Homo sapiens: one gene and its partner. The main gene of each other region encodes a partner of the protein of the gene in region 2 in a complex. Each region holds a gene or a part of one and is shown on either strand. Other genes may lie near its edges.

Evidence for each region. Proteins that work in one complex are often made in the same cells at the same time.
Region 1: the proteins of BMP10 (region 2) and BMPR2 are in contact, whole or in part, in a crystal structure (PDB 7PPA), measured with the Homo sapiens proteins. Residues at the interface, in NP_055297.1 of Homo sapiens: Tyr329, Lys333, Asp338, Ser339, Trp340, Ile342, Ala343, Pro344, Pro345, Gly346, Tyr347, Glu348, Glu395, Pro396, Ile397, Ser398, Ile399, Leu400, Leu402, Val407, Tyr409, Phe411, Ala417; in NP_001195.2 of Homo sapiens: Asp38, Ser64, Tyr67, Leu69, Lys81, Cys84, Trp85, Ser86, Ile88, Gly89, Asp90, Pro91, Gln92, Glu93, Thr103, Thr104, Pro105, Pro106, Ile108, Tyr113, Phe115.

What each region holds. Positions count from the first base shown.
Region 1 is NC_000002.12:202,512,327-202,519,326, reverse strand, and holds part of BMPR2 (bone morphogenetic protein receptor type-2 precursor), read right to left. Parts: intron 5,609-7,000; coding exon 5,498-5,608; intron 4,440-5,497; coding exon 4,348-4,439; intron 506-4,347; coding exon 275-505; intron 1-274. UniProt on the Homo sapiens protein: On ligand binding, forms a receptor complex consisting of two type II and two type I transmembrane serine/threonine kinases.
Region 2 is NC_000002.12:68,868,398-68,875,378, forward strand, and holds the start of BMP10 (bone morphogenetic protein 10 preproprotein), read right to left. Parts: upstream 3,001-6,981; 5' UTR 2,962-3,000; coding exon 2,628-2,961; intron 1-2,627. UniProt on the Homo sapiens protein: Required for maintaining the proliferative activity of embryonic cardiomyocytes by preventing premature activation of the negative cell cycle regulator CDKN1C/p57KIP and maintaining the required expression levels of cardiogenic factors such as MEF2C and NKX2-5.

The DNA.
Region 1 (7,000 bases), about 130 Mb from region 2:
CGGCTGTACAATCTCGGCTCCCTGCAACCTCCGCCTACCGGGTTCAAGCAATTCTCATGCCTCAGCCTCCCAAGTAGCTGGAATTACAGATGTGTGCCATCATACCCGGCTAATTTTTGTATTTTTAGTAGAGACGGGAGTTTTGCCATGTTGGCGAGGCTGGTCCTGAACTCTTGGCCTCAAGTGATCCACCTGCCTTAGCCTCCAAAAGTGCTGGGATTACAGGCATAAGCCACCACACCTGGCCTCAGTTTATTTTCTATGAAGAACTTACATTGGGATAGTACTCCATCACAAGCAAATATTCCATGCGTCCATCTGCAGTGACTCTCTCATCTCCAACTATAAAGCGGGCAATGTTGTCATGTTCCATCAAAGGCACTCTGTAAATGTTCTTTTCGTTGATAAAATTCTGACGGTTTGCAAAGGAAAACACTTTTACAGCAACTGGACGCTCATCCAAGGAGCCTTTATATACTGCTCCATATCGACCTCGGCCAATCAGCTGCAAGTGTTTTAAAGAAAGCAAGGTATTAATATCACAATTGAACAATCAAATTTACTAAATAATAAAGTACAAATTTAAACAGAATGCTACAGCTCTCTGTTGCTTACAGTTTATTCCATTATCAAGAAATTAATAAATTCTGTTCTAGTATGGCTGATGAAGCTCCTACCAGACCCAGCCTGCCCATAGAGAACATTTATAAATGCTGGACAAAATTTAAAAAAAAGAAAGATCTAAAGGCAGATAGATCTTGAGAGGCATTAAAGCTTTGAGAAAAAAGTGGTATGGGGCAAGCTACCCATTTTTATGACTTTTATCCTGAGGGCAGGCTGAAATCAGCACTGTGCAGTGGAACTAAAATTGCTAAAGAAAACCATTCTAGGCTGGGTGTGGTGGCTCATGCCTGTAATCTCAGCACTTTGGGAGGCTGAGGTGGGCAGATCACTTGAGGTCAGGAGTTCGAGACCAGCCTGGCCAAAGTGGTGAAACCCTGTCTCTACTAAAAATACAAAAATTAGCCGGGTATCATGGCACACGCCTGTAATCCTAGCTACTCAGGAGGCTGAGGCAGGAGAATCACTTGAACCCAGGAAACGGAGGTTGCAGTGAGCTGAGACCGCGCCACTGCACTCCAGCCTGGGCGAAAGAGCAAGACTGTCTCAATTAAAAAAAAAAAAAAAAAAAAAAAAAAGAGGCCAGGCGCGGTGGCTCACGCCTGTAATCCCAGCCCTTTGGGAGGCTGAGGTGGGTGGATCATGAGGTCAGGAGATCGAGACCATCCTGGCTAACACGGTAAAACCCCATCTCTACTAAAAAAATACAAAAAAAAAAAAAAAAAAAAAGTCAGGCGTGGTGGTGGGCGCCTGTAGTCCCACTTACTCAGGAGGCTGAGGCAGGAGAATGGCGTGAACCTGGGAGGCAGAGCTTGCAGTGAGCCGAGGTCGCGCCACTGCACTCCAGACTGGGTGACCGAGTGAGACTCCGTCTCAAAAAAAAAAAAAAGAAAAAAGAAGAACAGAAAATTGTTCTGGCCTTGGGAAACTCAGGACATATTTTGGACAGCCACAGTTGCTAGAAAATGAGGGGAGAACCCTAGAAAGGAGAAATTCAGAGAGAGGAAAGCCCAGTGAATATACAAGAGAGTTTCCAGCTAAAGATAAAATAACTGAGGCCGGGCGTGGTGGCTCACGCCTGTAATCCCAGCACTTTGGGAGGCTGAGGCGGGTGGATCACGAGGTCAGGAGTTTGAGACCAGCCTGGCCAACACAGTAAAACCCCATCTCTACTAGAAATACAAAAATTAGCTGGGCGTGGTGGCATGCGCCTGTAGTCACTTTTGTGGAGACTTAAATACTTGCATAAAGATCCCTACATAGAGGCTGAGGCTGGAGAATCACTTGAAACCGGGAGGCAGAGGTTGCGGTGACCCCAGACCATGCCTTGCACTCCAGCCTGGATGACAGAGTAAAAAAAAAAAAAAAAAGATAAAATAACTGAACTGAGATTTGAGCTTCTGCCCCAAACAGATTTGTGGTATGTGTTCAACCAAGTTTATTGCTTACTAAAACAACAAAAAAAAATCTTTTTTTTTTTTTTTAATTGAGATAGTCTTGCTCTTTCACTCAGGCTGGAGTGCAGTGGCACGGTCTCAGCTCACTGCAACCTCCGTTTCCCGGGTTCAAGTGATTCTCCTGCCTCAGCCTCCTGAGTAGCTAGGATTACAGGCGCGTGCCATGATACCCAGCTAATTTTTGAGTTCAGTGTTCCACAATACAATATTCACAATATCCAGAATACAAAAAAATTACTCAACACCCAAAGAACCAGCAAAATGTAACCCATTCTCGTTATTTTTGGCTTCTGGGGATTGCTTTTACTTTTTATTAAAACAGGTTGGGGATTTACCATCATTTATTTAAGGATATATGTTGTGTTTCATACACTGTTTCCAGATCAAAATTATACAAAGTGTCCTTTAAAAAGGTTATATCAATATATAGTTAATTCAGCAATGTTTGGAAGTGTTTCTATCACTTAATCATGGCTAAAATTCCATGGGTTAACTAGTATTTCTTTCAGCCTTGTAAATTGGACATCTTACTGTACATTTCTTAGCCACACTTACTTCTTTTGTGAATTGGCAGTTAATACCTTTTGTCCTTTTTTTTTTGAGACAGGGTCTCTGTCACCTAGGCTAACCACAACCTCTACCTCTTGGGCTCAAGTGATCCTTCAACCTCAGCCTCCCGAGTAGCTGGGACTACAGGCATGTGCCACCACACCCAGCTAATTTTTGTATTTTTTACAAAATAAATGGGGTTTCACCATGTTGCCCATGACTTGTCTTGAACTCCTGGGCTCAAGCAATCCACCCACTTTGGCCTCCCAAAAGAGCTGGGATTACAGGTGTGAGTCACAGCACTCAGCCTTTTTGTCCATTTGCTATAGAATGTTTCTTTCATCTTGATTTATATCAGTTCTTTATCAAGTTTTCCCTTATATGTTGAAATGTTGAAATTTATTTTTCAAATTTGGCTTTTATCTTTGTTTATGGTATGTCTCTCCCAAAACAGAAAGTTCTTACAATTTTTTATATAGTCAAATCTATCACATCTATTATTTAATAGTCTCTGGTTTGGGGACCATAGTTTTCAAGTCATTCTTAATAAATATAAAAACACTCATCATGGTAACACTTTTAATGTAGCTTCTGAGATATCACCAAATGAAACTTAAATTCTATATAAAAGAGCCTTATGTATCTATAAAAATATGTAATATATGCAGACAAGGAGTATTTATTTGTTGTCTATTATGGATCCCTTGTGGCACACTCTTCTCAAACTTTCATGTCTTTATTCTCATACCCTGTACAAATCTCTAATCAAAGGTCAACCTCTTTCTAAATATATTTTCTTTTTCTTTTTTATTTTTTGAGACGGATTCCTGCTCTGTCACCTAGAGTGCAGTGGCGTGATCTTGGCTCATTGCAACCTCCACCTTCTGGGTTCAAGCAATTCGCTAGCCTCAGCCTCCCAAGCAGCTGGGACTACAGGCGGGCGCCACCACTCCCAGTTAATTTTTGTATTTTAGTAGAGATAGGGTTTCACCATGTTGGCCAGGCTGGTCTTGAACTCCTGACCTCAAGTGATCCCCCTGCCTCAGCCTCCCAAAGTGATAGGATTACAGGCGTGAGCCACTGCACCTGGCCATATTTTCTTTTTCTTTCTTTCTTTTTTTTTTTTTTGTGGCAGAGTTTCGCTCTTGTTGCCCAGGCTAGAGTGCAATGGTGCGATCTCGGCTCACCGCAACCTCTGCCTCCCGGGTTCAAGCAATTCTCCTGCCTCAGCCTCCTGAGTAGCTGGGATTACAGGCATGAACCACCATGCCTGGCTAATTTTGTATTTTTAGCAGAGACAGGGTTTCTTCATGTTGGTCAGGCTGGTCTTGAACTCCTGATCTCAGGTGATCCACCAGCTTCAACCTCCCAAAGTACTGGGATTACAGGCATGAGCCACTGCGCCTGGCCCATATTTTCTTTAATAACCCCCTTTTCATCACTTTCTTATCCACTGTACTTTTCTTCATAGCACTTACTACTACTTGCAATTATATTATACATTCCTGTACCTGTCTGTAGACTCCCCAATTCAAATAGAAGCCCCAGGAGACATTGTTCACCTATGTTCCTAGTGCCTAGAATAGGCCTTGACAAAAAATTGTAATTTAGTAAATAGGGTTAAATAAATGAATGAATGTCTTAATGATTGAATGAAGTCACTGTTCCAGGTCTAGTATCACAGTAGAAACAACAGTCCATAATCTAACGGCAAACTTACCTCCAACAGTTTCAGATTATCTAGATCAAGAGAGGGTTCGGATGCTGCTGCCTCCATCATGTTCATACTGTGAAGACCTTGTTTACGGTCTCCTATAAGAACAGGAAACAGGTTACTAATATATGGTTTTCTTAAAATGAATATCTTTTTACACTTTTTATAATATTACACTTAAAAAGAAGAGCTGCAGAAAGATTAGCAGCAAGATTTATGCCTAATGTCAATAGGAGTAAAGCTATTTACTAAACTAGGTAATACCTATAAATTAAGATGAATGCAGAATAGCATGAAAGCCAAATTCTGGGAGACACTCCCATGATGACTTACTTTAAAAGTTTAAAACCCTAAGCAATATTATAAAAACTTTAAAGAAGATTGTATAGAAGTTATTCAAATGAATCAATGAACGCTGATTTCCTAAACAGTCCATCAAACCTAAAGTATATTAGAACCAACTTGACATTTGATGATACTGAGGAATTACTGTTATTTTTTCAGATGTGAAAATGGTATTATGGATATGTATTCTTAAAGCTCTTGTATTGGCCGGACGCAGTGGCTCACGCCTGTAATCCCAGCACTTTGGGAGGCCAAGGCGGGCGGATCACGAGGTCAGGAGATCGAGACCATCCTGGCTAACACGGTGAAACCCCGTCTCTACTAAAAATACAAAAAATTAGCCGGGCGAGGAGGTGGGCACCTGTAGTCCCAGCTACTCAGGAGGCTGAGGCAGGAGAATGGCGTGAACCCTGGGGGGCGGAGCCTGCAGTGAGCCGAGATCGCGCCACTGCACTCCAACCTGGGCGACAGCGAGACTCCGTCTCAAAAATAAAATAAAATAAAATAAAATAAATTTTAAAAAAAGCTCTTGTATTGTAGAGATAATATTTATAGATATATAATATCTAATTAAATATTTACAGATATATGATATCTGTGATTTGCTTCAAAATAATCCAGTGGCATGGAAAGGGGTAGTGACTGATAATTTAAATGAAACAATACTGTCCATACGTGATACTATTGAGGCTGGGTGTATTTTGCATAACTTTGAGACTATTTTTTTTAACATACGGAATTTAAAAGGAGCAAATAAATTGATTAAATTGCATGTTTAATAAACAATAGGACAAAAAATGGTAATTTTTACCTGTCAACATTCTGTATCCAAAGCATAAGGCAACTATCAAAACAGCTAATACAGAGACTGATGCCAAAGCAATGATTATTGTCTCATCTCGGTTAAATGAATGAGGTGGACCTAAAAGAAAACAAATTTTGAAATGTCATTTTTTTTTAAAAAAGTATTTTGTTAAATACTGACAGACTGCCCTTTAGAAAGGCTGTACCCATGTATAATCAAATTAGTAATGTTTTTGCATCAAAGGAAATGAAAGAAAAAATTAGTAATAAATGTGATAATTACAAATTATATTTTTTAATCATACAGACTATTCTGTATAGATTTGGAACACTAAAACACCAAGTAGATGTGCTCCTAATTATTAAAACATCAACAATACCATGAAACAGATTAGACAGGATAGTATAATATCAAGAGTCTTAGAATCTAACAGTTTTAGAATCACATTTGGTTTTAAATCCTCAATTTCCTCATTTATAAAAATAGTACTCTGTATTTCCCAAGTTAGCTGTAAGATTTAGATGGTAGTCTAAGTACTTAACACAACGTCAAGAATATATTATCTGGCTGGGCACAGTGGCTCATGCCTATAATCCCAACACTTTGGGAGGCTGCTGCAGGAGGATCACTTGAGGCCACAAGGTCAAGGCCAGCCTGGACAACATAGCAAAATGCCAGACATTAAAACAAATTAAAAAAAAAAATTAGTCAGGCATGGTGGCATGCACCTGTAGTCCCAGCTACTCAGGGGGCTATGGCAGGAGGATTGCTTGGGCCCAGGAGTTTGAGGCTGCAGTGAGCCATGATTGTATCACTGTACTCCAGCTTGGGTGATGAAGTGAGACTCTGTTTCTTTAAAAAAAAAAAAAAAATTAAAGTTTTTTTTTAAAAAAGCATATATTATCTACGCAATAAATGGTAGTTACACTTATCAATATTGGTATTTTTATTAATGAAAATAGCATGGCTTTGGAGGCAGTTAAATCTGAATAGGACTTGAAGCTCACTTCTTCCACTTAACATATGACCTTAGGAAAGTTTCTTCTCCTATCTGAGCCCAAGTTTACTCACTTGCAGAATGGAATGGGAACACACATAGGTAAATCACAGGGCTATCACAAACATGTAAACATTTTATGTGTTAAGTTCCATTCTGTGGGTCAGATCGCATCTAGAGCAAATACCCTTTAGGATGGATGGCCACAAACTAGAGCATATCCAAAAGAGAGCAAGTACAACTATGAAGGTTTGAGACCTCTGAACTGTGATGGGTAGAAAGAACTGAAAGCATCTGATGAGGAAAAAAAAGAAAACTTGGGAGGATATGATAGCTGTCTTCACATCAAATAACCAGTTCCAATCAGTGTATCTTCAAGGATAAGAGCCTTTAGTTGAGCATACAGAAAAGCATGGCTTATAAACAGACCTGTCTAAAACAGAATGAGTTGCCCTATGAAAGAGCTGTTCATTGTTTAACTAGATGTAGTTATGCAATGTTTGGTAATACTG
Region 2 (6,981 bases):
CCTTTGATCCTTGTCATTTACGTCCTTATATTTCAGCCATCTTTTTATGAATGGATTTTCCCAACTAGATTGCCATCCTCCTGGTTTGAATGGCTCAAAACTCCCTTCTATGTCTCTATCCTACTATGATGGCTTAAACAGAGGTAGTGCTTTAAAAATATTGATTAGTTGATGATTCTAGGCACCAGACTAAATTGATTTATGGGCGTGACATATGACCTTAATCCATCATCAAGCTCTTGGGTTGGGCTTGGGAGTTATTCTTCCACTCTAAGAAGGGAAGAGACTTGACTCCCCATGGACAGGGAACATGGAAGAGTAGGCTGGTTGCTCTACCCAGGAGAAAAGTATAAAATAAGAGCTCACTGTAGTGGGAGGAAGGCATTACAAAGTATACAAGGAAGCTTTTGGTTTTAATGGATATATTCATGATCTTGATTGTGGTGATGGTTTCAATGAATGTTACATATGTCAACACCTTTCAAATTATACACTTTAAATATGTGCGATTATACTTTTATACATCAATATTTTTATATGTCATATTTTTATAAGTCAAATATACCTCAATAAAGCTGTTTTGAAAAAGTAAGTTCACTGTGAAGTTCTGTGCATGTGCAAATGCAGTAAGCAATAGATGGAAGAGTTACATTTCAGGGCAAGAGAACGAATGTTTGTTGACAAATTTCTCATGCCAGGTGCTTTGCAAGCATGATCTTCTCTGGTTCTCACAATGACCCCATAATGCAGGTATTGATTCTCTACTCGTTTTGCACCAGAATAAATCAAGCCTTGATGCAGATAACTGATTTCCCCAAATGACAAGGTGATAAAGGAGCACGCTTTTTTCACCTTGGAGGTGGCACTTTTTTTTCCCAAGATGGGGTAGGTTTGGAGTTTTTTTGGTCTTTCTCTCCTAGGGAGCTGCACTAAGCAGATCCAAAGAGTCAGAAGAGAGGCAATAGTAGCCAACAGGGCATGTCCTGTGCGATTTCTGTCCTCAGGCTGCACATTTCCTGCAGACTGGCAGAGGTGCTGGCGGCTGGGTTGTTTACTAAGAGATGTGTTCCTGCCCTCAATAATCTCCAGTAATAATAAGCACAGTAAACTCCACATCCTGACCTGGATCATCCAGATACTCTATGAGAGAAGTGAGAACGGAAAACGTTTCTAGTTTTCCAGGGGATGCAAACAACATTTTCTCACCCACACCCTGAGCCAGACACTTAGGGCTCAGTGCTGAGAAGTATTAGGGAGGGTTCTTACAGGAGGAAGTTGTTCATTTTCAATTCAGACTCACCTCCAAAAGCAATCTGTAATCTCAACTTGCCATTTCCATGAGAAAGATATTATGAATTATAAATTTTGGCAGCCAACTCAATTTTAAAGGGAGATAATATCTTAGGGACTAAGGAATACCTACTCAACATTTATTCCAGTACCTAGAATATTAAGTAACTCATTAGTAGTCACTAAAGTTTGATCAGCACTTCATAGTAAATGGAGTGCTTTCTTATCTGTAACCTCCTTTGAGTCACTCAACTATGTTATGTAGGTATTATTACTCCCACTTTATAGATGAGGAAATTGAGGCTCTGAGGCATCAGCTAATTATTCACAACCACTAAGCCAACTAGCTCTCAAAATCCCAAATCCTGAGCTATTTCTTCACTATTACCTTTCTTCTTTCAAGAACATCTGGCCAATATTAACGGGAAGCTTCTTTTATACCTGGTTAGTGACTATAAAAGCATAACTGGCAAAAATTAAATTAGTTCCTTTGGACCTTCAGCTTCTACTATAGATATCTAGATATCAGGGGTTTTTTTTCCTACTAGGACCATATTAACCAAAAAACAAACAAACAAACAAACAAACAAAAACATTAACTTGCTAGCTCATTAGATTTAGTTACCAAATTTAAAGACCTAAGAGAAGAAAACACACTTTTCCCACCAATAATTCAAAGCTTGTACGTTGCTCTTTATAAAGACGGAAATGATGAGCTGGATGATTAATGGGCCATCTACACTTCCTGGAAACTGTAAACAGTGCTTTAAGGATGTACATGACACATCAAACAACACAGCCTTAGGAAGAATCTTTAAAATATATTTCCATCCTGTTTGAACATTTCTTAAATAAGGTCACAAAATAAAAACTTATCAAAAGTTTGAACAAAACACAAATCACAATTTGATGTTTTTTGACTGTTTTTACCCTTTTTATTCTAAGTAGAAGTTGAGAAATTTTTTAGTTAATTAAAAGCCCATATGGCAATCAAGGCCTATTTGGAAAATGACAAAGGTACGGCAGTAGACCAACATTAATTCTTTGTATTACTTGGTGTTCAAATTAACATTTTTTAAAAGGACCCAATTATGATGTCAAATTGATAGATGTTTTGTGGCTTTGGATTAAAAGATGTTTGTAAGTATTTTTCGAGGTTCCTGAAATGACTATATAATTGGTATAGAACAAAATGTGCCTTGTTTTTGTGTATCCATATGTATTTAACATCCTTATATAGATGTATTTACCCTTACCTATATCATTCCCATGCATTGTAAATTTACTTATTGTGTCTTGAAAAAAATCCTAGCAAAATTTCATCAGCAAAAACTTACCTTCATTCTTGAAACTCCTAATGATGTTGGCAGAGGGCATGGAGGTCCGATCTGTTGCAAATTTGTTGTAGAGTTCCAACATGTACTCTGGTGGGTCCACCTTGGCTGAATCCTGCGTGGGGATGTCAGAGAGGTTTAGTGTCTTAAGAAACTCATCCTTCATGCTCTGGAGCAGTGTGTTAAAGTCGACACCGTCTTGCTCTGAGAAAACATCACCAAAGAGGGACATATCTTCTTCCAGAGGAGACTGCTCTAGGTTCATGATGGGGCTGCCAGAAACCAAGTAAGCTGCCAGGCAGAAAAGAGCGCACAGTGTCAGGACCAGAGAGCCCATGACTCCGCTCGAGCTCCTAGGCCAAGCCAGGAAGGTTTAGCTTCCCTGGGCTCTAAGTGGCAGTTTTATCTTGTGGAACGTAAATGTCTCCTGTCACTGGAGACAAGTTTGGAAACTCTTCCTCTCTCTCTCCCTCCCCCTACCACTCTTCCTCTCCCCCTAAAAGTCAGGTTGCAGTAATTGGATAACAAAATCCCCTATAGGGGCCTAGCCTTTCTTATCTCCCTAGTGTAAACTTGTGCACCAGAATTTGTTTCTATCTTGCAATCCCTATTTCTTTTAATGAGCATTTTGTAAACATTTCCACATTCTGACACTGGTTGAGAGATAGGACAATTTTCTCTTTGCAAAGGCTCTGCTTCTCTTCCCTTCAATTCACTTCCTTTCAGCAGGAATGCCTAAATTCTGTTTTTATGGGGCTTAGTTTCACACATGCATATAATAGGTATAAGAATCAACATAATGCACATCAATGGTGATACATGTTAATTTGAGAGGTAGGGCTCAGATAAACACTTGTGAAGACAGACCAAATATCCAAACTTTCCAAGTTTAAGTTAATAGCTATAAATGAATTATATAAATTTTTAGAAGTGTACCTTTTTAGAAACAGGAAAGTATAAACTTCATGATTGACAGGCTTTTTCCTACCTATTTGATCTGGCTAAAATAGCATTTGAAAAATAGGGCAAGTGCTTAGTTATACTGGCAACTAGAATTTATTAGATGCTTCCTACAAACAGGCATTGTACTGAGTGCTTTACACCTATCATCAAGTGTGCTCCTGTAATAACCGTATCATTATCTCCATCACATATATGGGTCAGTGAAGTGCCATAGCTTGCCAGAGGCCACAAAGTTGCAAAGTGATGGGGCCACAATTTCAACCAAGGCAGCCTGATTCTTATGAAGAATAAAACAGTCACACTTTTAAACCACTCTTCTACCAGACTAGGGCATGGGCAATAATGCTGAGAGGCCAACACGTCCCCAGATCAGCCTGGAGGCAGGAGGCAGGCAGAAATTTGTAGCTGGATGTGGACCTCAGGTCCTCCATCTGTGCAATGAGTTGTTAATATAACCAACATCTCTGCGAAATTCATCCTTCTGACTCAATCAAAATTGTCATCAAGAGGCTCCAGCAAAAGCTTGGTGTGATGGTTAATACTTACTGTCAACTTGATTGGATTGCAGGATGCAAAGTATTGATCCCGGGTGTGTCTGTGAGGGTGTTGCCAAAGGAGATTAACATTTGAATCAGTGGGCTGGGAAAGGTAGACCCACCCTTAATCTAGCTAGGCACCATCTAATCAGCCGCCAGCACGGTTAGAATATAAAGCAGGCAGAAAAACGTGAAAAGACGAGACTGGCCTAGACTTTCAGCCTATCTTTCTCCCATGCTGGATGCTTCCTGTCCTTGAATATGGGACTCCAAGTTCTTCAGTCGGGGAACTTGGACTGGCTCTCCTCGATCCTTAGCTTGCAGACAGCCTATTGTGGGACCTTGTGATCGTGTGAGTTAATACTTAATAAACTCAGAAATATATCTCCATCCCCTATTAGTTCTGTCCCTCTAGAGAACCCTGACTAATACACTCGGCAAACAACATTACTAGGCACACAAAAAACGCCAAATGCCTTGGTCCTGAAAATAAAAATGGTAGAATCGATTGTGTGTCCAGATTAGGAAAGACAAATCAGGTTCATCACATTTTCCATTCTAACTAGTGACAGTAGCAGCCGGGGTGCAGCCAGAGAGGCCCTGCGGACAAGCCCAGGGGATGTTTTTCCCACTGAGGTGGTAGTTCTGGTATCTTTCTGACGTGCACACCATTACTCACGCGTCCTGGTGCTGTGTTCCAAGGGCTGTGTCAAGATATTTGGTTCACTGGAATCCTTTCTCAGTTTCTAGGTTAAATTTTCCTATATTCATGCTCATCGTTTAGCTACAATGTCTCCACTTAACTTTTTCTCCAGGCTCACTTAGGTTTCTAGTCATCTTTTGATTCTTTTTCCTCCTAAAATGTACAATGTTACAGCCATTTTTTAAATTACCATAGAAAGAACCATATTTTGTTTAGTAGTTGTTAATTGTCTATTTGTTTAATAGTTTTGATTTTGATTCAATGTTCAATTTTGATTCAAACTTTCTATTCCCATAGTAAAACGACAATTGTAGACTGGAGACAGATTATACCCTGAACAGTCCCACAAGTGAGTGAGTGACTCCAAGGGCCAGAAGCCGTCCTTCGGGTGGTTCGTTTTCACATGAGGTTTCTGACAGCATACCAGCAATGCCCTGTATCATGTCCTGCATCCAAACAGGCACCCATTTATCTTCACACACACACAGATGTCAACGCACACTCCAAAACTCTGAATGCAGGCATGTGCGTGTAACTGCCACAGGACAGCAGTGTAAGTGGTGGTACTTACAACCCCTGAGCACACTGGTTTCAAAGGTCACGGGGAGAGACATGCATCCCACATTGCGGAGTTCTAGTTCTTTACATTCTTGAGCATAAAAACATTAACTGAGACTTCACTGGCTTCCCTGTACTTGGTGTTAGAAAAACTACAGGGTCAAATATTTGGATCCATGTTGATATTTGGGGATGATTAAAAGATACAGTAGGAAAATGACTATAGCCATATTTCAGACATTTCAAGATATCAGCGTGTCTTGAGACGCATGCTTGGTGAAGGTTCTTAAACCCATACCTGTGCTGGGTGGACAAGGAAGGAGGTTGGCTTCATGCTTGGAGGAAGGGGACATAAGCTCTCTCCCTCTTCCAGGCCTGGGACACCTCACATCTTAGCTGCAGAGTCTCTTTATCCCCATATTTTTCTCTAGAAGCTTTTTCTGATGACTCTCATCTGACCCTAAAAGGTCCAAATGTCTTTACATTCCTACCCCTATTTTGATCTTTCTGGATGCAATTCATTCTATTCTTTTGCACTTATCTCATTATTTTGTATCCTTCTCATTTGGAATGTGTTACGGTTCATTCAGAGTGGATGGGCAGTTTCGTGAGCCAAAGATGTAAAAGGTATGTTTAGATGTTTTAAAAGAACCCATACATGTGGAAAGCAAAATATTAATTACACATTATGCTTTTCCACCCCACTGCAAAATGCTCCAGAACCTCTGATTTGCAAAGTTCTGGGCCAGTTTTTAAAACTAGTTCCATAACTGTACAAACTTAAAGAATCTAACATTGAACTTCATTGGATTCTCAAAGGGATCTGGGATCCAGACATGGTCAGAGCCACTGGACAGCATCCTGATGAATTCTGCTGTTTCCTGTGAGTAGTGCACAGCCCCTGAATAAATGCAACCAATAAAATTATCCTGAATGAAAAGAGGCCAATGAAGTCAGGAGGTCTTTGAACATGACTCTAGGTTCTTGGAACCCTCTCTACCTTGGATCCCACTTCAGAAGCATTACATTACTCCTGCTACCTTCTCAGGACCAGGTGTGATAATAAAAAAAAAATTTAACAAGCTATACGATGGGTTTTGCCCATTTAACTTATATATGAATTGAATCATGTTATATGTTTTCTTCCAAGACTTACTTTTTTGCACTCAACAGGATTTTTCCAATGCACACTTGTTGATGCCTGTAGCTGAGTTCATTGATTTTCACTGAATTGTTGTCAGCTTTATAAATACATAAAAATTTCTTTGTACGTTATACTGTTGATAGAGACTTTGTTTCTTTTTTTCTCATTATTTACAGTACTACAGTGAATAATCTTACTGTTATTTTCTATTTAAGAGATTCTCGGCCAGGTGCGGTGGGTCACGCCTGTAATCTCAGCACTTTGGGAGACCGAGGTGGACGGATCACGAGGTCAGGAGCTCGAGACCAGCCTGACCAACATGGTGAAACCCCGTCTCTACTAAAATACAAAAATTAGCCAGCCATGGTGGCATGTACCTGTAATCCCAGCTACTCAGGAGGCTGAGACAGGAGAATCACTTGAACCCAGGAGGCAGAGGTTGCAGTAAGCCAA